Linked DNA regions of Homo sapiens. The protein of the gene in region 1 purifies or fractionates together with the protein of each later gene. This does not show direct contact. Each region holds a gene or a part of one and is shown in the gene's direction. Other genes may lie near its edges.

What was found.
Region 2: the proteins of ETV6 (region 1) and KLHL13 purify together in Homo sapiens (affinity purification with mass spectrometry; one large-scale study listed by BioGRID and IntAct). This does not show direct contact.
Region 3: the proteins of ETV6 (region 1) and TRIM62 purify together in Homo sapiens (co-immunoprecipitation; one large-scale study listed by IntAct). This does not show direct contact.
Region 4: the proteins of ETV6 (region 1) and WRAP73 purify together in Homo sapiens (co-immunoprecipitation; one large-scale study listed by IntAct). This does not show direct contact.
Region 5: the proteins of ETV6 (region 1) and HHIPL1 purify together in Homo sapiens (co-immunoprecipitation; one large-scale study listed by IntAct). This does not show direct contact.
Region 6: the proteins of ETV6 (region 1) and LPXN purify together in Homo sapiens (co-immunoprecipitation; one large-scale study listed by IntAct). This does not show direct contact.

What each region holds. Positions count from the first base shown.
Region 1 is NC_000012.12:11,890,674-11,893,275, forward strand, and holds part of ETV6 (transcription factor ETV6), read left to right. Parts: intron 1-267; coding exon 268-373; 3' UTR 374-2,602. UniProt on the Homo sapiens protein: Transcriptional repressor; binds to the DNA sequence 5'-CCGGAAGT-3'. Plays a role in hematopoiesis and malignant transformation.
Region 2 is NC_000023.11:117,903,811-117,907,310, reverse strand, and holds part of KLHL13 (kelch-like protein 13), read left to right. Parts: intron 1-3,500. UniProt on the Homo sapiens protein: Substrate-specific adapter of a BCR (BTB-CUL3-RBX1) E3 ubiquitin-protein ligase complex required for mitotic progression and cytokinesis.
Region 3 is NC_000001.11:33,165,044-33,168,543, reverse strand, and holds part of TRIM62 (E3 ubiquitin-protein ligase TRIM62), read left to right. Parts: intron 1-1,748; exon of another isoform or gene 1,749-2,977; coding exon 2,978-3,073; exon of another isoform or gene 3,074-3,500. UniProt on the Homo sapiens protein: E3 ubiquitin ligase that plays a role in antifungal immunity by mediating 'Lys-27'-linked ubiquitination of CARD9 downstream of C-type lectin receptors; leading to CARD9 activation, followed by activation of NF-kappa-B and MAP kinase p38 pathways.
Region 4 is NC_000001.11:3,647,304-3,651,578, reverse strand, and holds the start of WRAP73 (WD repeat-containing protein WRAP73), read left to right. Parts: upstream 1-1,475; 5' UTR 1,476-1,579; coding exon 1,580-1,648; intron 1,649-4,018; coding exon 4,019-4,171; intron 4,172-4,275.
Region 5 is NC_000014.9:99,672,629-99,676,128, forward strand, and holds part of HHIPL1 (HHIP-like protein 1 isoform a precursor), read left to right. Parts: intron 1-2,462; coding exon 2,463-2,998; 3' UTR 2,999-3,500.
Region 6 is NC_000011.10:58,548,357-58,551,856, reverse strand, and holds part of LPXN (leupaxin), read left to right. Parts: intron 1-624; coding exon 625-792; intron 793-976; coding exon of another isoform or gene 977-1,060; exon of another isoform or gene 1,061-1,704; intron 1,705-1,710; coding exon 1,711-1,884; intron 1,885-1,989; coding exon 1,990-2,071; intron 2,072-3,500. UniProt on the Homo sapiens protein: Transcriptional coactivator for androgen receptor (AR) and serum response factor (SRF). Contributes to the regulation of cell adhesion, spreading and cell migration and acts as a negative regulator in integrin-mediated cell adhesion events.

The sequences.
Region 1 (2,602 bases):
CTTGGCCTCCCAAAGCACTAGGATTATATGCATGAGCTACCATGCCTGGCCCTAGTCTTTTTAAATAAGCATTTTACCACTTTTTAGACAGTCAGAGAAAGGAGTACCTTTTCCTAATTTGCACTAAGTTAACATTAATCTCGGGGTTCAGTAGCTCTCCAGCTGTATAAGATGATGGAGTCTTTCTTTATATACAGGCTAGAGTTCAGAGTGAAGACAGCTTTAGGAAAATGGAATCTCTTACCTCCTCCACTTCTTCTTCCAAAGGTTTATGAAAACCCCAGATGAAATCATGAGTGGCCGAACAGACCGTCTGGAGCACCTAGAGTCCCAGGAGCTGGATGAACAAATATACCAAGAAGATGAATGCTGAAGGAACCAACAGTCCACCTCAGCGGGCCAGCAGCCCAGGGAACCCCTGCCCACCAGGATTGCTGGAAGTGTGACGGAGCAGGCGGGCTGAGGAGAGTGGAAAAGGAAGCGACCCAGAAATGGCAGGGACACTTCTCTTGCAGACCAAGAGGGACCCTGGAGCACCTTAGACAAACTACCCAGCACAGGCGGGGCTGGAATTCTGGCGGAGGGCATGAGCCTGGGACTCCATGTCACGTTTCCTTCTGATTTGGAATCTCTCCATCTGTAATTCCTCACCCTCACCCTTCCACCGTTGTTAGTATCATGGTGTTTTTGTTTTTGTTTTTGTTTTAAGAACCTGCAGTTTGACTCTTCATCGTTCATCTAGGGGAAGACATCTGATGTTGTTTTCCTATGGAAATATATATCTATTATATATATATTTTTTGCAAATCTCACAAAGTGCGGCAAGCCCAGCTGGTCAGGAAAGAGAATACTTGCAGAGGGGTTCAGGTTCCTCTTTTTCCTGCCACGTGGATCAGGTCTGTTCCTGTTACTGTTGGGTCTTGGCTGAAAAAAAAAAATGCTTTTAAAAAAGATAAAATGAAAAGGAGAGCTCTCTTTTTCTCTCTCTTGCTCTGTTCTTCCCTTGGTCCCCTCTGTCCTCCCGCCCTGCCTGCAGTTGAGATTCAGATGCCTTCTGACAGAGTTCAGCCTCTTGGAGAGTCTTGGGGATTGTTGGCACCTAAACAGAATCAGTGACCCGGGTGCTTTGTGGCCAGCAGCACAGAATCAAACCCGCATCCCAGCATTGGGCCACCCATCTGAGGGAGGCCAAAATCATCACAGATGCTGCTGTGCTGCAGACAGATACATGCTAGTCCAGAGAGCCGCCCCTGAGATGGCTGTGAGAACCATGTGTCTAAGGCGTAAGATAAGGATGGAAGGCTGTCCAAGTTATTTGGAAGGCCTCGGCAGCTTGGGATTAGCTTGGGAGCGCAGCGCTGCAAAGTGGAAAATATGAAAAGACCACACAGGCCCAGCAGTCCAGAAACTGGGCAAAAATATTCTGCAGTGGGGATTTATTTTTCCAAAGCAGGTAACAGAGGCTAGTGAGAAAGAAAAGCTCCTCTCTGCTCCATTCCAAAGGCCATCTTGTGGTCAGTTTCATGCCCTCACCTGATTTTTTTTTTTTTTTTTTTTTTTCAATTCCTAACCTTTTTTAAAGTTTCCTGGTCTCCACTGGACACAGAGCTTTGGAGACGGAGGATCCCAGAGGGCAGTCTCAGTTGCAATCAGTGTGTGCCCAGCCTGGGCAGACAGGAAATTCCTCGGATACATTATTTTTTCTTTCTTTCATAGCTGTGTCTCAGAAAGGACCCATTTGTGGCTCTTTTTCACCTCAAAATAAGATCGATGGTATCTTGTAAAATGAGGGTAGTGCCACTTCTTAGTATTTTTGAAAGCTGTTTTAGATTTTTTTTTTTTTTCCTTTTCTAGCCATCTAAATTGACTCTTCCAATATAGGTCTCAGAAATCCAATATTTGGAGTACAATTTCTTTTAATCCAGATTACACCTGCCTTACAAAGCACCCCCTCCTTGTTCCCCTCTGTTTCCTCTACTCAGTTGGGGGAGAAACTCACAGCTCCTCCGGGATACATATGTGCCCTCAGCAGCAGCTCCCAGGTGAAGTTACCAGACCCCTGGGCTTCTCCCCAGCTTTTTCTGAGTTGAGTCAGACATGTAGAGTTTGGGTCACACAGGCAAGAGGAATTTTCCCTCGGCCTTACTGACAAGGACACCAACCTAGGGTGCAAACAGATGGACTATGGTTCAAGGACACTGGAATTGAGGAGCTGATCAAGGCTCTCTTCAGCCTTGCTCTGTCCCTGCCTCTTATCAGAGCACAGGTAGACACACGGGCATAGCCAGCCCACTCCTACTGTCACAGGCGCCCCACCATTCAACCTTCCGGGAGGTCAGGGACCTTCTATATGAGGCGAGTGGGTCTCAGTCTGCTTGAATGGTGATGAGATTCTGCTGGATCTCAGCACGCTGCAGGTGTCTTTTGAGAGCATTCAGTAGGACATGGTGATCCCTATTTCAGCCTCTAAGATGACTGGTATTCTATCTGAAATGCAGAGATTAAGCCAAATACCTGATGTATTGTGAAAGCCACTGATTTTAAGAATGGAGAGAAAGGGATTTTTTACTGCATCCCTCTGTATGAATATGAAATCAGAGAC
Region 2 (3,500 bases), on another chromosome or scaffold:
CTTCAGGCCAAGGAGAGTCATTACATAAAACCAAGATGCTAGAGGCTTCTTTCTTTGAACCTATCCCAACTCTCTTTCAGCTGCTCCTATGGTATACCCATCTAGGAACTAGAAATAGACCACACTGTTGGGCAAGTGGCTCATACACAGGAATCCTTGCTCCTGACCTTCAGAAACCACCCCTCCATCTCTGATTAAAAACAGTCTTCTGTGTTTCATTTTGAAAGGGAAAAGAAACAAGGAAATCATGCTTTTCTTAGGGTATTCCTAAATTCATATTTAGGCTTTAACAATAAAATTTCTAAAGCTTAACCTAAGGATAATGACTTAAAAAAATTTCCCCTCTAATGGTAAATATAGGTCCATTTTAATCTTATTTCATAAACTGCATTTAAAAAAAGGCACATGTCATTATAATACAGGCACAAACCATCTATTCCAAGAATTCTAATTCTAGTTATCATCCAATTATTTGATATTTTATTCCATTTGAAATGATCTATAGATTACAAATCTATAATGACCTCATAGATTTGTAACCTATAAGTAGCTAAACTTTTGTAGAAAATGATTGCGTCCCTTAAAATCAGCATACCCATCAAACGCATTCTGTACTAAACATTTTATTATATAATATATTGGAAGTTTAAAAAATATTTTGTGATTGACTTAGTAAGTGCATTCAAATTTAGAGTCTTGATTTCAGGAGAAAAAAGGCCAAAAAGAGTCATTAGATAAAGCCAAGAAGCAAGAGGTTTCATTTGTTTCTGATCCACTCCACCCCCTTTGAGTTCTTTCTATGTTATACTCAAATAGAAGCAAGAAGTAGATTGTCTTGTCACGTCACATCCTGTATTACGGAGGTAACCAAACTTGATGAAACCTGCCTTGATTACTATTGCTCCCAAAGAATAATATTAATGAAATTTCCTGAATTCTATCCATGATCGTGTTTCTCTTTATATAAATAAAAAATGAATTTGTGTTAGTTGGCATTTCCAGTTTTCTTGGACCCATTGTTTTTGCAGAATAGCAGATTTTGATTCTAAAGAAACTCTTGCCTATATTTCTGAATGTTCCTGCCAGAAACTGAGGTTTTAACATTTCCCCTACCCTACAAGCGCTTTTTAAAAATAGAATTCCTCCTTCAACGCACACATTAACATCTGTTATAATAAATTAACATTCCCATTGTAACTGATTAAGTTGAGACATTCATATGCCTATGTAAATAGAAGGAGGTGATGGGAATGGGTGGCAGGAAGAGGGGATTGATGGGAAAGTCATTTAACAATTTAATAGGTTGATTAGTACCAGTATATCACTTCATACACACAGTAACTATTGCCTGTATATAATTATAAAAAGAAAAATTTGATGGGTACAAAAATAGTTAGAATGAATTAATAAGGCCTAGTATTTGATAGCACAGCAGGGTGACTATAGTCAATAATAATTTAATTGTATGTTTTACAATAAGTATGAGTATATATAATTGGATTATTCGTAACACAGAGGATAAATGCCTGAAAGGATGGATACTCCATCTTCTATGATGTGATTATTATACATTGCATACCTGCATCAAAACATCTCATGTACCCCATAAAAATATACACGTACTATGTACCCACAAAAATTAAAAATTAAAAAAAAAACAGTGGCAACATTTGCAAGACAGTTTAGATCACTTTAATGCATTAGGCCTTTTAAAATCTTTCCATGGGGTACTTGGACCAAAGGAAACCTAAGCCCATTGTTCATCAAAAAAAGACTGTGTGTGTGTGTGTGTGTGTGTGTGTGTGCACGCACTAGCACACGTGCTCACCTGGTTTAGTGCTGAAATATAATTCCTTCAAAATGCTGCTTTCCTTTGACACTGGTTACAATGGGAAACTAGGGGAGGCTTAGAGTAGCTGTCACTTAAGTGTAAAAGGAGTCAGTTATTTCTGGCATCTTTCAAAATTGTGTCATATAAGAAATCAATCTTCTATTGAGGCTTCCTATATTGAAGAAGATTATGACAGCTCCAATATCTTTCACTTCAGTTAAATATTAATAAGTTAAGGTTTCAAATAATGAAATAACTTATAGAAAACATGTTAGATGTTTTTCAAATACATGCACAATAAAACTACTAAAATTTATTAAATGCCTCTATACCCCCCAAAGGATTTGGGGGTTTCTTGATCACTCACCAGCGTTCTATGTTTCTAGAGTCCATCTCCCCTGTATGACAGCCATCACTGTTTAAATGATTTTCTTTAGGCTGATCTCTTTCCTAATCTTAAAGAACAAATAAATTCCACATCCTCTTCTGGGACCGATTCTGGATTCCTATGGAATTATCTCAGAAAATAAGAACTCCTGATATATGTGAGATAACCAACCTAAGTATAATTCTTAAATTGGAGAGATTCTTTAATGTAAACACTAGGCCACCAAACTACTGAAGTTAATTCTCTAGATTAGGGGCCAGCAAACTTTTGTAAAGGGCCAGAAAGAGTCTATTTCCAGCTTTGTGGGCCATTAAATCTCTGTCACAAGTAATCAACTCTGCTGTTGTAGTGTAAAAGCAACCCTACATAATCCATAAACAAATGAGTGAGGCTGTGCTCCAATAAAGCTTTATTTGTGAACATGAAATTTGAATTTTATAGAATTTTCATAAGTTACAAAATAGTCTTGATTCTTTTTCAATGTGTAAAAAATGTAAAATCATTCATATTTTTATCTTTTGGGCCCTACAAAACAGGAAGTAGACTGGATTTGGCCTATGGACTGAGGTTTGCTGCCACCTGCTCTAGATTTTTCCAGTTGCCTCTTTACCATTTCCAACTCTTATAGACTACGATTGAAGCACTGCTTTGTGGCTCCAACTCTTTGCCTTGCATCATCCCTTACTCCCTCTTCCCATCAGAGTTGTTGGTACTAACCTATATCTGAGTGTCGTGTAAATATGGAAAATGGAAATAAGAGCATGTGTATCTACTTTTTAATTAGATGTATTTTATTTTAAAATAAAATACTATTGATTTTACTGATAACAATAGCAACTCTGCATGGAGAATTGCATGACAATAAAAGTTGACAATAAAAATTAAATGCCTGGAACAGCTAAAGGAGATGCATTTTTAGCTGGAAAAAAGCTTAAGAATGATGGACTATTATATAGTAATTTTGTTATTGGTGGTTAATAGCTATCTTGAACTGAGGGCCTCCTGTGTGAGAAAGTACAAATGGATTCTTATAACCACTATTAGGGGAAAATGCAATTAAGTCACTGACAGAGGAATTATCTTTCTACATAGGAAAATATTAATAATAATAAAAAGTGAATAAGTATTCAAATTCTAACTCCACTATAAAAAGAATAAGAAGAAACTAATGGAAATCACATTGGAACAGTTTGAATTAAACATAAGAAAGGACAGTTACAATCCAAAAATTTCAAAGTTTAAGTCAGAGTCCCGCATTAAGAAAAGTGTAAAACTATAGTG
Region 3 (3,500 bases), on another chromosome or scaffold:
TGCTGCGGCAGGTTGCACTGGCTCCTGAGAGCTGATTGTGTGCATCTCATCCCAATGCCAAGTCCAACTACTACTTCACACTGATGGCTTGAAATCCACTTGAGTGGGAACATTTACACCATGGAAATTGGCACTGTTGGGGATTTAAAAAAAAAAGTTTTTCTCAGACAGCCAGCTTCCTAGCATGTCACTGAGTAAACCGATGGTGTGGCAGCCCCACAGTCATCAGGGACTCGGGCTCCTTCTTCCTTCTACTCTTCTGGTTTCAGCTTGTGACTTTGGTCTTTACAGTTGCCTCATGGCCTGAGATGGCTGCCAGAGTTCCAACAATTGCATCAGCATGGGCTCTCAAAACAAGCAGCTTGTATTTTTCTATCTTACCCCCATTTTCATGGCTGGCTCCTCCTCATCCTTCTGCTGTCACCTCCTCAGAGAAGCCTTCCCTGGCCACCCTACCTAAAGTCCCCTCCATCTCACACTGCTTTATTTTCTCTGCAGGACACACCATATTGGTAACCTCGCTCCTTTATTATTTTCCTTGTTTGTTGTCTGTCTTCCCCACCAGACTAGTCCCTATGATCAGGGACTGTGTCTGTCTTGTCCTTCGCCATAATCCCAGTGCCTCAACAGTGCCTGGTACATAATAGTTGCCCAAGAAATGTTTTTTAAATGAATAATTGATAGTAATCAAAGATAATTTTGTTTCCTGCATTCTTCCATCAGCATGTCATCATGAATATTTTCCCATGTTGCTGCCTAGTCTGTAAAATTAATTGAACTAGACATTTACCAAGGCCCTCCCTGGTCTGACAAGCTGAATGAGTGGGAGGGAGGTGGATGTGAACAGGTAAGTCAGCCTTCCTGGCACTGCTCACAGCCCAGACTGACTTGGGGAACTCAGAGGCCATTTCCAGGAACTTCATTCACGCAGCAAGCGTCATTGAGTCCCATCTCAGTGCCAGGCTGTTGCTGGGTGTGAGGTATATGGAGAGGGAGCAGTAGGAGCCACCCTGGAGGACTTGTGGGCCAATACGGGGACGAAGAAGAGACAGACAGGAGAACAACTGGCGATAATACAATGGGCTAGATTCCCAATGCCTGCAGACAGCTGGACCCTGTGCTAGGGAGCACTCACCTCCACAACCCATTTATCACTTGACAAATAATCACTGAGTCCCTGGGCATAAGGCAGGGAACAAGCCAGACAAGATTCCTACTACTCTCATGAAACTCACATTCTAGTGAGGAGATAAGCAATAAACACACAGTCAAATATATTCAGACAGCAGAAGGCGCAAGGAAGACCGTGAATCCAGATGTGTGACAGGGTATGAGGAGGTGCCACTGTGCGTGGGGCGGTCAGGCAAGACTCTTCAAGGAGGTGGCATCTGAGTTAAATTAATGGTACAAAGGAGTCACCGTGAGAAACTCTGAGAGTGGAGGCCACCAGCCAGAGGGAATAGCCAGGGCATAGTCTGAAGATTGGAACGAGCTCAAGATGGTGGAGGCACAGGAAGAAGGCCACTGGCTGGATGGGAGTGATGGGGGAGGGTGTTGGAGACAGAGGTGGGATCAGAGGGTGCCCCAAACTCAGCAATCAAGATGAATAGTATTTAATGCAATATTTCTTAAATCAAAATTAATGCAAAAAACCCACGATGAACAAAATTCAACATTTCAAACAAGGCCAGGATCACTAACAATGCTCTGCTGAGCCACACTGGAACCTGAGACAAAGGAAAAATCAGTGAGGCTGATTGTGTTTTTATTTAAAATTTTGATATCTTGTGTGTTGTGGATTTGTTGTTATTCATCGCAGGAGTCATCATGGTAGAAAACGTGTCACCTGGCATCAAGATCATGGTCTCCACAACCAGGCTGTCCGGGTTCCAATTCCTTCTTTACCATTATATGTTTATCTGTATGCTATGGGGCCAGTTTCTTGACCTCTCTGTATCTTTTTCTCCATCAGAAGATGGAGATAATAATTGTGCCTCCCTTAGGGTTACTGAGAGGCCCAAATGATTTAATATAAGCAAAGAGCTAAGAACTGTGCCCAGCCCACTGTAGCCCTCGGAGAATGTTGGCAGCTAGTCTGTAGCATTGGACTGGTACAGCTTTGGTTCCTTAGAGCAGTGGTCCCCAACCTTTTTAGCACCAGGGACCAGCTTCATGGAAGACAATTTTTCCACAAACCGCAGGGGGTGGGGGTGGGGTGATGGTTTCAGGATGATTCAAGCACATTACATTTATTGTGCACTTTATTTCTATTATTATTTCATTGTAATATATAATGGAATAATTACACAACTCAACATGATGTAGGATCAGTGGGAGCCCTGAGCTTGTTTTTCCGCAGCTAGACAGTCCCATCTGGGGGTGATGGAAGACAGTGAGTGATCATCAGGCATTAGATTCTCATAAGGAGCAGGCAACCTAGATCCCTCCCATGTGCAGTTCACACTCCTGTGAGAATCTAATGCCACCACTGATCCAACAGGAGGTGGAGTCAGGTGGTAATGCCAGCGATGAGGAGCGGCTGCAAATACAGATGGTTTGCCCCTCCCCACCACTGTTCATCTCCTGCTGTGCGTCCAGGTTCCTAACAAGCTATGGACCAATACCCACCTGTGGCCTGGGGGTTGGAGACCCCTGCCTTAATTCTAAGCGGGGATCCAGGGCCAAGTGTGGGGAGCCAGAGAGTGTGTATGTGGAAGTCGATTGTCACAGAAGCCTCTAGGGTGGCCAAAGAGGAGGAGGTTGTTGCAAAGATGCAGGTGAAAGATACGGACGGGTTCTGGAGGTGTTTAGGAGACAGACTCTACAGGACTTGCTGGTGGTTGAACTGTGACGGGAGGCAAGTGTTGGAGGTTGGGGACAGAGACCAGGCTAACCCCCAGCGCCTGGCAGTGGTCAGGGCTGAATGCCTGGGCCAGGCATGGCCCCTGCCCCCATCCCGGCCCTGTGTGTGTTTCAGAGGGAGCTGAAGGACCAACTTCAGGCCCTTCAAGACAGCGAGCGGGAACACACCGAAGCGCTGCAGCTGCTCAAGCGACAACTGGCGGAGACCAAGGTGAGCCTGGCCGGGGCGCGGAGGTGGGGCCGGCAGAGATGAGGGCAGGGCTTCGAGGGGCGGGGCCAGCTGGGGAAGAGGGGCGGGGCCTCGGGTGTGCGGTGGAAACCTGGCTTCAAGGAGCCAAACCTGGAGTGAGAAGGGCAGGGTGGGGAAGAGGGTAGGGCATCCGTGAAGTTCAATGGGGCGGCACCCACCCCATCATGACTGGCGGCAAGGATGTGGGCTGGTCCCTCGGTTAAGGACGGGGCCATTTCTCCCTTCCCACTTTGGGTGGAAGTTGAGGCGGGTCCCGGGACCCTCCGGAAACCCCCTGCCTCCTGAAGGGCTGGGGAATGTGCTCAGTCTCTTTCTCCTCTCCCCTTATTAAAACCGCCCAACCCTGGTGTTGTGACACACACTTGTAGTCCCAGTCTCTTCAGAGGCC
Region 4 (4,275 bases), on another chromosome or scaffold:
TGCTCCTCCTAGGCCATCGGGGCTTCCAGGGCCCTCGACCACGTACACCAGGCCCTGGCTAGGGGACCCGACATGCTGGGCGAGTTCCGAGCGGCTCTCAGTGGCGGCGCTGCTTATGGTCTGATGCTTATGGGGCCCGTGATCTGGCTCCGAACCGATGTCCTCTGCCCATGGTGACCCCCACGTCTTGGAAAGTCGCGTCAGTGAAGCCCGTGGCTTCGCGAGCGAGCCGGGCTGGCGCAGACTGGGTTCTCTGGCCGCAGCGGGTCCGCGCCTGACGGGGAGGGTCCGGCTGACTCGCACATCTTCATGGCTCACCCACTGTTTGCTGGGCGCACGGGGTGGGGACCCAAAGACGAATCCCATGCAGAGGTTTGGGTCTAGTTTTGGCAACAGAAAAGGCCGGCACCGCCGGAGTAGGACGCGCGCGCACCACCATCCATTCGGCCGGGGAGGTTGGGGCGTCCGCGGGGAGCAGACCCGAGGCTGGGCGCCCGGAGGTACGAGCAGGACCCTGGCCGGCTCTCAGCTCCCAGAACCCAGGGCCAGGCGGGGATGTCAGGGTCTGCGCGATCTGGGGGGCCCTAGAGGCGCCGGCGGGGCCTGGCGCGGACTACTAGCGGCCTGCGGGAGCCAGGGGTGGAGGGGGCCGCTGTCTAGGGAAGAGGACCGGGGTCCGGAGTGGGGGTGAGAACGAGGCACGCCCCTGAGCCTGCGAAACCTGCGGACCGAGCGCCCGCGCAGGAGCTCGCTCCCTCTGGGCCCCCAGGTCCCAGACCCGCACGATTCTTCGCCCGGTGCCAGCCCAGATGCGCGCGGGTGATGAACGGGCGGTGGCCGCGATCCACGCGCTCGCTCTGCCCAGTCAGCGGCAAATTCGTTCTCTCCTTGATCTCAGTGGCACTGGAGCGTGAGGCAAGGGCCAGGCGGCAGGTAGAGGGGTCGGACTCAGCAAAAGCAAACAAAACCCCAAGCAAACGAAATAAATACTTATACATTACATACACGATATAATATATGTGCGACAGACACCGTATTACTTATTAAAGATATATTTGTAGGTAAACATATATTTACATGTAAACATACATTTACATATAAATATAAATATATATATATGCATGTGTACACACACGCAGACACACAGGTCGCTCAATTAAATTTGAATTTCAGACTAGCGAGTAATTTTTCCGTATTAGCATGTCCCGTGCAATATTTGGGAACATACTTATAACTAGATTTGTTGTGAATCTGAAATTCAAATTTTACTGTGCTTTCTACATTTTTATCAGCAGCCCTAGCTGGAGGTGCTCAAAGGCCTCCCGGCCTTTGAGGTAAGGTTCTCGGGTCGGAAATCCCTGGTCGGAAGAAACGTGGGCGTTTCCTTTAAAGCCCTGCGGCACAAGAACTACAAGCCCCACAATGCCGCGCGGAAGCCGGCGGCGCTGATAGGCTGCAGTTCACTTCCGCCTTCTGACTTCCGGCCTCGGAGGCCGGCGTCGGCTGTTGCAGCCTGCTGCGCGCCCAGGGGTCCCGCGGGTTTTCGGGCGCAGGGTGGCGCCCGCGGCAGGCGGCGGCCATGAACTTCTCCGAGGTATTCAAGCTCTCCAGCTTACTCTGCAAGTTCTCCCCGGACGGCAAGTACCTGGTGAGCGGCGGGGACCTGGGCCACGGGCAGGACATCCTCGGTGCCAGCGTCCCCGGCGGGCAGGGCCGGGGGCGGCCGCGTGGGTGGAGGCAGCTTGGGGATCCTGCAGGTGCGGTGCCCGGACAGGTGCGGGGCCCGGGCAGGTACCCGGGGCAGGTGCAGTGTCTGAGCAAGTGCCCCAGACAGGTGCGGGACCCAGGAAGATACCCTAGACAGGTGGAGGGCCCGGGGAGGTGCCCCAAGCAGGTGCGGGGCCCAGGCAGGTACCCCAAGCAGGTGCGGGGCCCAGGCAGGTACCCCAAGCAGATATGGGGGCCGGACAGGTGCAGGACCCCGGCAGGTGCCCGGGCAGGTGCGGGACCCAGGAAGATACCGTAGACAGGTGGGGGGTCTGGGGAGGTGCCCTTGGAAAGGTGGGTATCGGCAGTGCCGACTGCACACAGGTGAGGGTATAGGAGATGTCGGCTCTTTGTTGTTACTTTGTCACAAAAGGCAAATTGATGATTCTGTTGCCTGTAAACTGGTAAGTGGTGTGGCTACTTTGTCATCTCTACTTCTCCTCTAATTCTCTTCTCCTCTACCACATGCCGAATAAATGATTTAAATACTAGTATTCTATCCCCAGGTAAGGAAGTAGTTGTCCTCATGGCTGGGATTTGAGGTCTTCGTTCCATGGGTGGCAGAAGGGTGCTTAAATCACAGAGCTATAACTTTAAGCTTCAAAACATATAGTGTATGTACCTGGATGCCTAGTAGTGTATATCCTCAGAAGAGAGGGATAACCCGGATGCCTAGTATGTATGTCCTCAGAAGAGGGGGACAATTGGCATTGGAAAGCCACTAAGAAGAAACATGCCTCGTAAAAAGTGGGCTTCGTTTTCCTTATCCACCACCTGTACTAACTGACTGATGTATCATGATGCTTTTTCAGGTTTTGCCACTCCTGACATTCCTGTGCTCTGTCTAGCTTTTGAGAGTTTAACTCTCAAATTACGTTTTTTACCTCTTCAGGGAGGTTTTATTCCAAATCACATAAAATAGCATCAGCTACAAAACAGAAAACCTCATTAGTTTAAATGGCATCTCAGCCTTGGTATATTTTCAATGTGCCCCCCTCCTCAATTAAATGAGAGGTTTGTTTTTTGTTTTTACCATTTATGAAAATTTCAGTGAATTATAAGGAGAAAGATTACATCTGCTTGCTTAACTTGGGTGTTTTTTTCCAGCTTGTACACTCTGGTCAAAATACCCTGAAACACTTGGTAATGATCTGTTACTGGAATCATCTTCTTGAAAGCCCTGAGGACTGGGGAGAGCAGGTCCATGTTTCTAGTTTTCATATCTTGCAGTAGAGTTTATGTGGTTCCTCAAGGTGTTGGTAAAAATATTCCATTTCATAAGGAATTCACTGTAACTGATCACAGTTTTCAAAGCTACAGTGTGAGAAAGTAAGTGCTGTGGTAGCTCCTTGTTCCAATCTGCCGTCACCCGCCTGTCTCTCTTTTCTCCCACGGAAAACTAACGTGGCTTTCTTTTTTGATATCGGTTCATAAAACACAAACTACTTTGACCTTGATAAGTAAAACTAACGAAGCAGTTAATATTTAAACATCAGTTCTTGATCTTGAAACTGTAGTAAAATATACATTCAGCAGGTGAGTACTCAGGCGTTATTTTTACTTGAAATTGTTTGCTTGGATAGGGACATAATGAACAAATATGGACAAGAAGAAACTATCTTTAAGAAAATAGTACTAACACTTAAACATTTCCCGTTTCGTGTTAGGAATAGGTTAATGGAGATAAATGAGCATTTGCGAAGCATCTTTATGTGTGCAGAAGTGAAAGCCTGTCTTTTGATCTTCTGTTGTTTTGGCTCTGAGTTCGGCACTGCATAAGAAGATTGATGCATTCCTTGCCATTTTCGTTGTCATCTGTGAAGCCTCAATTCTTACCCTTTATAAATTTGAGGAAATTGTCCAAAAGTGTTTATAAAACTAGCAGAGGATTTTGGTTATTAGTTCACAGAAGAGCTTTCTCCCAATGCTACTTCCCATTTAAGTTTAGTTTTTAACATACAGATAAGAAGGGACTTAAAAATGTCTTAAAGCTTTAAGTAGCGAGTTAAAACATACTTTTATACTTTACAATAGAGTATAGCAATATTAAAACCTGGCTTGTATATTTCAACATTACCCTTGTATGAACTGAACTGATCTTTAGGGGCTGGGGATGTCACTGGTGATCTAGACATGAAACCTCTGGCAGGAGAGAAGGCCACAGTCACTGAAGGCCAGGGCAGTAGCATTCCGAAGGCCCCCCTCTTTTGGAGTGGAGAATGTCAGGTGCTTGCTTTCTCATATTTTTTAGGCTTCCTGTGTCCAGTACCGGTTAGTGGTCCGGGATGTGAACACCCTTCAGATCCTTCAGCTGTACACGTGCCTAGACCAGATCCAGCACATCGAGTGGTCGGCAGACTCGCTCTTCATCCTGTGCGCCATGTACAAGCGAGGGCTGGTGCAGGTGTGTGCTGCCGTGTCGCTTAGAATCTGGACACCTTCTGAGGGCCCCTGGGAAGGAGGGGTTTTGTTCTGTGCCTTTCTAGTTTGAAAAAAAAGTCCGTGCAG
Region 5 (3,500 bases), on another chromosome or scaffold:
ATAGCTGGTGCCAGGCAAGGTACTCTGTGAGTTCTTGGGAGGGACAGAGAAAGAGGATGTATCTGTGTGTAAGCAAGGGAGACCGGAAGAGTTGTTTGTGGGAGGGGCTGGCATATGGGCTGGGCCTTCATAGATTGTTGACAAGCCTGATGAGGAGAGACGACAGAGCAGGGCCACAAATGACTGCCCATGGGGCCTGGGACTGGGGGAAGGGGATGCCCCAGGCTGGGGCTGTTCCCCTGGGCCCAAGTTAGGTGGGAACAAAGACCCTGTGTTGCCAGGTCTTCCAATTCTTCAGAGAAGCAGAAAATCCCCCCATCCACTCATTCACCACGGACACGTGCCCTGCCCTGGGGATACAGCACACGGCGAGACACTGCAGTCCTCGCCTTCTCAGCCTGTTAGGTACAACCTCCCAATTCAAAGTGTTGGCGACTAGTTCAGAATTTTAAAAACCACTCCGCGAGCCAAGGAAAATATTTCAGCAGGCCAAGTGGGCTCAGCAGGCCACCCATTGGCAGACTGGGTGTGTATGGGGGTGGGGAGGGCAAGAAGAGAGGGAGGCTAGGCACCTGGGCTGAAGAGGTACCCGGGTAGAGGGGGAAGGGTCTGAGCTCAGTGATTTTGGAAGTGAGTTCTGGCCACAGTTGGTTTCAGGGCTTGGTGAGTTTTTCATTTACTCATTCAGCAGTTTCTGGCACTTTTGTTAGTTACTGGCTCCATGCTGGATGCCAGAGCCACAGTGAGAAGTCAGACTAGGCCCTGTTCTGGCTGGGACGGACAGAGATGTCATTTACTGTCCAAGGCCTTGTGATCGAAGTGTGTGCCAGGTACCGTGAGGACCCACCCAGAACAGTGGAGACTGGGGTTGGGGGTAGGGGTTCCTGGAGTCTGAAAAGAAGAGGAAGGGTGCACCAATAGGGGGTTGCACTGAGGGGGGTGGCAGCTAGGGGGATGGCACTGAGTGGGTATGGCACTGAGGGGGGTACACCTGGAGGGGGTGCACTGAGGGGGATGGCATGGAGGGGGGGTGCACTGAGGGGGGTGGCACAGAGGGGGTGGTGCACTGAGGGGGGTGCACCTGGAGGGGTTGCACTGAGGGGGGTGGAATGGAGGGGGGTGCACTGAGGGGGTGGCACGGAGGGGGTGGTGCATTAAGGGGGGTGGCATGGAGGGGGGGTGCACTGAGGGGGGCGGCATGGAGGGGGGGTGCACAGAGTTGGGGGATGCACCCAGGCAGGTTGCACGGGGGGGTGCACCTGGGGGAGTGCACTGAGGGGGGCTGGCACCAAGAGGGAGGTTCACTCAGGAGGGTGCACCGAGGGGGGTGGCAGTGCAGGCAGAGGGAACAGCAAGAGCCACAGTGGGAGAGGTGAGGCAGCCTGAGGAGCAGGAGGTGGGGGCCAGGGGCCAGGGTGCAGGGACAGGGAGCGCCTTGCCCATGTCATGGTGCTCTGGGCCCTGGCCTGTGCTTGGCCTTGTGCTGAGAGGCCCTTTCTCAGCTCTCTCTCAGTGGTTTTCAAAGTGGGACTGGCTGAAGTGGGGCGGGATTAAAGAGGTTTGGCCTGGTGGCCCCAGGATCCTCCCCATAGTAATTGAACAGTCTTGGGCTGTGACGCATGGCAGTGCCCAGTGCCTGGCACTGCACCTGTGTGGAGTAGAGCTGGGCACAGCAAAGTGTAGATTGAGGTCTATCCCTGTGGCTGACCTGGGCCAAGCGTGTCCCCACATTCTGCAGAGACAAAGGAAATCACCTGCCTCAGCTCCCTAGCACCGACTGCACCCAGGCTCTGTGGTGGGGTATAGGGGCTCTGCCTTGTTCCCCAGACACAACCAGAGTTCCCCCATCGTACCCGCTGTGACAACCCGCTGGTGCCAACCTTGGGAACCAGGAGGAAAGAGATTCACCCTGACCCCAGGGATCCCTGTGTGTATCCCGTTCCCAACCTGCTGGCCACTGGCCACCACAGACCCGCAGCAGTTTTTACCCATCTGTGGGCCTCAGCTTCCTCACCCTCACAACCAAGGCCTGGAAGATGAAACGGTGACTTTCTCTTAGAAGCCTTCCCAGACACTCCTTCCTTTCATTGCCTTCCAGAGTTATGAAGTGCCAGGAGCTGGCTCCCCCACCAACCTAGGGACTCCTGGGAAGGTGGGGCTTGGGGTAGGGAGACGCAGCAACAGCAGACTGGCACAAAGCAGTTGATAGTGTTTGCTGTATGACTGAAAAAGCCCCTGGCCCCTGAGTCCAGGCCGGCATCTTGCTGGGTCCGGGTGACCTGGGAAGCACGACTGGGAGCGCAGGCGGCATCCCGTCTTCTGGGTGTGAGTGCAGGACAGACCCAGGACATCCTTCCCCGAGTCTGCGCTCTCCGCACAGGTTGCAGGGCAGCACAGGGTGGGCAGCAGGGCTGGACAGGGGCGCCTGGGTCCCTCTGACGGCATACTCTTCCTCTGCGCAGAGTTCATCCCGAAGACACGGAGCACCCCGCGGCCTACAGCGCGGGCGCCCACGCGGGCGCCCCGCCGAGGGCGCCCCACGGCCGCTCCCCCCGCGCCAACCCCGCGGCCAGCGCGGCCCACCCAGCAGCCAGGGAGCCGGAGGGGCGGCGGGCGGCGGCGGGGGCGGCTGAACTCGGCGAGCCGGGCGTTCCGGGATGGCGAGGTGCGCCTGGTGCGGCCCGCGGGCCTGAGCTCTGGCAGCGGGCGCGTGGAGGTGTTCGTGGGCGGACGCTGGGGCACCGTGTGCGACGACTCCTGGAACATCAGCGGCGCCGCCGTCGTGTGTCGCCAGCTGGGGTTTGCCTACGCCGTGCGCGCCGTCAAGAGAGCCGAGTTCGGCCAGGGCGGCTCGCTGCCCATTCTGCTGGACGATGTGCGCTGCGCGGGCTGGGAGCGGAACCTGCTGGAGTGCCAGCACAACGGCGTGGGCACCCACAACTGCGAGCACGACGAGGATGCGGGCGTCGTGTGCAGCCACCAGAACCCCGACCTGTAGGCAACACGCCGCTGCCCCAGGCCATCCCGCCGGCGGGGGAGCCTGGCAGGGGCCGCTCCGCCCTGTGTGCGCCCAGCGGGTGCACACGTGTTCTAGAGTGAAGGGGGTGCGGGTGTGTGCTGTCCTGGGGACATGTGTGAGGCGCTGCAGTGCATGTGTGTCCTCTGCAGACCCAAGGCAGGAGTGTGTGTTGGGGGCGGTGTGGGCTCTGGAAGTGCATGGTCCATCATGGGCGGGAGGAGTTCCTTTCTTACCTCCAAGCGTTTCAGACACCAGCAGGAACAGCAGCCGGGCTGTGGGACCCTGAGGAGGGAGGGCAGCCAGGCTTCGAGGACGGACATGGCCCCTGGCTGTGCTAACAGAGGCACAGCTTGCAGACTGAGGGCGGTGGGGAGAACCAGGCTTGTCCTGCCCACAGCTGGAATGGAAGGTGCAAGAACAGCCGGAGGGTGGCCTGAGGAATGTGGCCCGGACAGCATGGCCTGGTGCCCGCATCCCCCCC
Region 6 (3,500 bases), on another chromosome or scaffold:
AGTCCCAAGTATCTACTCAAATATTACTTCCTTAGAGGGGCCTTCTTTGATTATTACCTCCATCTAAATCAATTCTTCTTACCATCTTGCTGTGTCCCTTCTATCTCTTTCTATAACTTATCTCTGTCTGACATTACAACATATATTTATTTATTTAATTATTTATTGTCTATCGCCCACAGAATGCAATTCCATGAGGCCAGACACTTGGTCTGTCTTATCTTTGCTTTAATCCAAGTGCTTAGAGCAGTGATTGGCACAAACCAGGTATTCAACAATTATTGCCAAATAAATGAGTAAAAGGGAGATGTGACTAATTTTTGAACTGGGGTCATCCTAAGATCTTCAAAGGGTATCATCTTCATGTACTAAATTTCCTACATTAAGAAAAGATTTACAAATATAAAATTAGTCAGATTTCATTTGGCCTGAGGAGTTTAGGATGAAAGGGAGATGAAAAGATTTTTATTGGTGTTGAAATTTTAGATTTTTCCAATGTCTTGCAGGAAGGTTGGGGAAAGGCCAAGAGATCAGTCAGTAGAGGTGAATTTATAGAGTCATTAGAAGATGCCAATGAGAATAAAAATGAGGCTGATTCTGTTCTTGGTTCTTCCCTTGGGCCAGGTTGCAGTGAGAGCAGATGCTGGCAAGAAGCACTTACCAGACAAGCAGGATCACAAGGCCTCCCTGGACTCAATGCTTGGGGGTCTGGAGCAGGAATTGCAGGACCTTGGCATTGCCACAGTGCCCAAGGGCCATTGTGCATCCTGCCAGAAACCGATTGCTGGGAAGGTGAGATGGGCTGAAATTTTGGTCCTACAGCCTTCTTTGTCTCTCTCTGTCTCATCAAGGTTTGCTCTTTCCCCTTATATTTTAAGATATTTTAGTTAGCATTAATAATTACTAATCACTTACAGTGCTCTGGCCACTGAGCTAAGTGCTTTACAAGTATTTCCTCATTTAATGGTCACATCAGCCCTTCAAGAAGAATGATTGCTCCCTTTGTAAAGATGAGGAAACTGAGGACTCAGAGACATTAATGGACATATCCAAGGCATAATAAGAGGTAGAGGTAAGATCTGAAACCAGGAGACTGTCTCCTGAGTTTGAGTTCTTGACCATTTTTCTGTACTGCCTTTACTGAGATGACCTTTCTCACTGCTCCCTTTGTTCACACATTCCCAGTCTAAATTGATTGATTACAATTTTCAGCTGAACTCAGCTCCAAGTCACAGCTGCAAACTCCTGTTCTGCATCGTCCTTCACCGAAGCTATGATAAAAAGCTTTGAGACCTGACTGCATGGGGCGTGGAATAAAGTGTTCAAACTAGAGGAATAAAAACTGTCATTTGGCCTTTTCCTCTTCCAGGGGTCCCTTCCACACTAAGGCTACAGTTACAACTTCTCTGTCATCAATGTGCTATATGTTGTTTCTGCCACCCCCTGTGGCAGTGCAGTGGTTGTGAACATTTACAGGCTTTCATCACAGTGATCAGTCCCGGAAGTGGGCATCCTTTTATTATCAATCCATAAAGCACAGACCACAGATGGCCTTAGGTGGAACCTAGGTCTAGGCCTCAGTGTTGTATAATTCCAGGGCGTGTTGTCTACAAGGGGTACAATGTGAAGAGTGCTCCCTAGAGTTGTGCAACCTGTAGGCTGTAGAGCACTCAACTGGCCTCCTGTGTCAGGCTTTATTTCACTCCACAGGTGATCCATGCTCTAGGGCAATCATGGCATCCTGAGCATTTTGTCTGTACTCATTGCAAAGAAGAGATTGGCTCCAGTCCCTTCTTTGAGCGGAGTGGCTTGGCCTACTGCCCCAACGACTACCACCAACTTTTTTCTCCACGCTGTGCTTACTGCGCTGCTCCCATCCTGGATGTAAGTAAATCCCCGCTCCTCTCCAGCTTTCAGTCACTCACTTAGAACCAGAGTCATGCTTTACAACTTCTGCATCATTATAATATCTGTGTGTTCCCTTTCCAGAAAGTGCTGACAGCAATGAACCAGACCTGGCACCCAGAGCACTTCTTCTGCTCTCACTGCGGAGAGGTGTTTGGTGCAGAAGGTATGACCCGACTTGAGAGGCTGTATCCCACACCCCAGTGGGTAGTTATAAGACCAGCAACACCTTTCCTGGTAGTCACGGGAGTCCTGGTTCCTATCAGTACTATCAAAGTGCCCATTTCAGTACTAGATACCATCCCTCCCTACCTTTCTCCAACATTTATAATTTCCCTTTAAATTGATTTTTTAAATCACAGAAATACAAATGCATAGTTTAAAAACTCAAATATTACTTCAAGGGTAATATTGAAAAAGCCTTTTCTTGTTGAATATTGAAAAAGTCCCTTTCTCATCTCCAAATCCAGTTCTCCTCTCCAAATTATTTTAGCTGTTTCTTCTGATATTTACTTATTTTTTGTTGTTGTTGTTGTTTGTTTTTTTGAGACGGAGTCTCACTGTGTTGCCCAGGCTGGAGTGCAGTGGTGCGATCTCTGGTGCGATCTCCGCCCACTGCAACCTCCACCTCCTGGGTTCAAGCGATTCTCCTGCCTCAGCCTCCCAAGTAGCTGGGACTACAGGCACTTGCCACCACACCCGGTTAATTTTTGTATTTTTAGTAGGGACAATGTTTCACCATATTGGCCAGGCTGGTCTTGAACTCCTGACCTCGTGATCCGCCCGCCTTGGCCTCCCAAAGTGCTGGCATTACAGGCATGAACTACTGCGCCTGGCCTGCTTATGTGTTTTAAATAATAACTTTATATTGTTATAGATTGTTTTATTTTTCCAGTTTTAACCATTATGTATTGACTGTCTAAGAGGGAAGATGAGGTTTAGAAATGTTATTATTACCCCACTCACTCCTAACATATTTCCCCTCCCCTGTTTTTTCAATATATAATTATGTCATAATTACAGGTTAGATCAGTATTAAGTGTGCATATGTTGACAATCATAGAATACTGCTCACAAGTAAGCCATGTAGCAAACTGACTACACTAGAGTCTGGATTTTAGAGTCAGACTTCCAGGTTCAAATCTGGGTTGTGGTATTTGTTCAAGTCATTTAACATCTCTGTACCTTACTTTCCTCATCAGTAAAATAGTCCTAATGAAATTGCCTACCTTATAGGGTTGTTATGAGGATTTAGAGACAATACAAGCGTGGTATTTAGAATAGTGCCAAGCACATGGAGGTATAGTAGTGTTAATATTATTATCACAGTGTCCTTTTGGTATAAATTCATTTTTTTCTAAAGTTAACATTTGAATCCTTTTTGAAATTGGCTTAGTTTTTATTGTACTTATCACTAAGTTATGCAACAGAACTGTGAAATTCTTTTCAAAATGGCCAACTACATCTGGCAACAAGTCAGTTTCTTTCTTTTCTTTTTTTTTTTTCTGGAGATATCCCTCCAGGAGACTTTCCTCCTCCTGATTCAACATGAAATGATTTCTTCCTGCTGAGTAGCAGTCATTCTGGTTCATTAA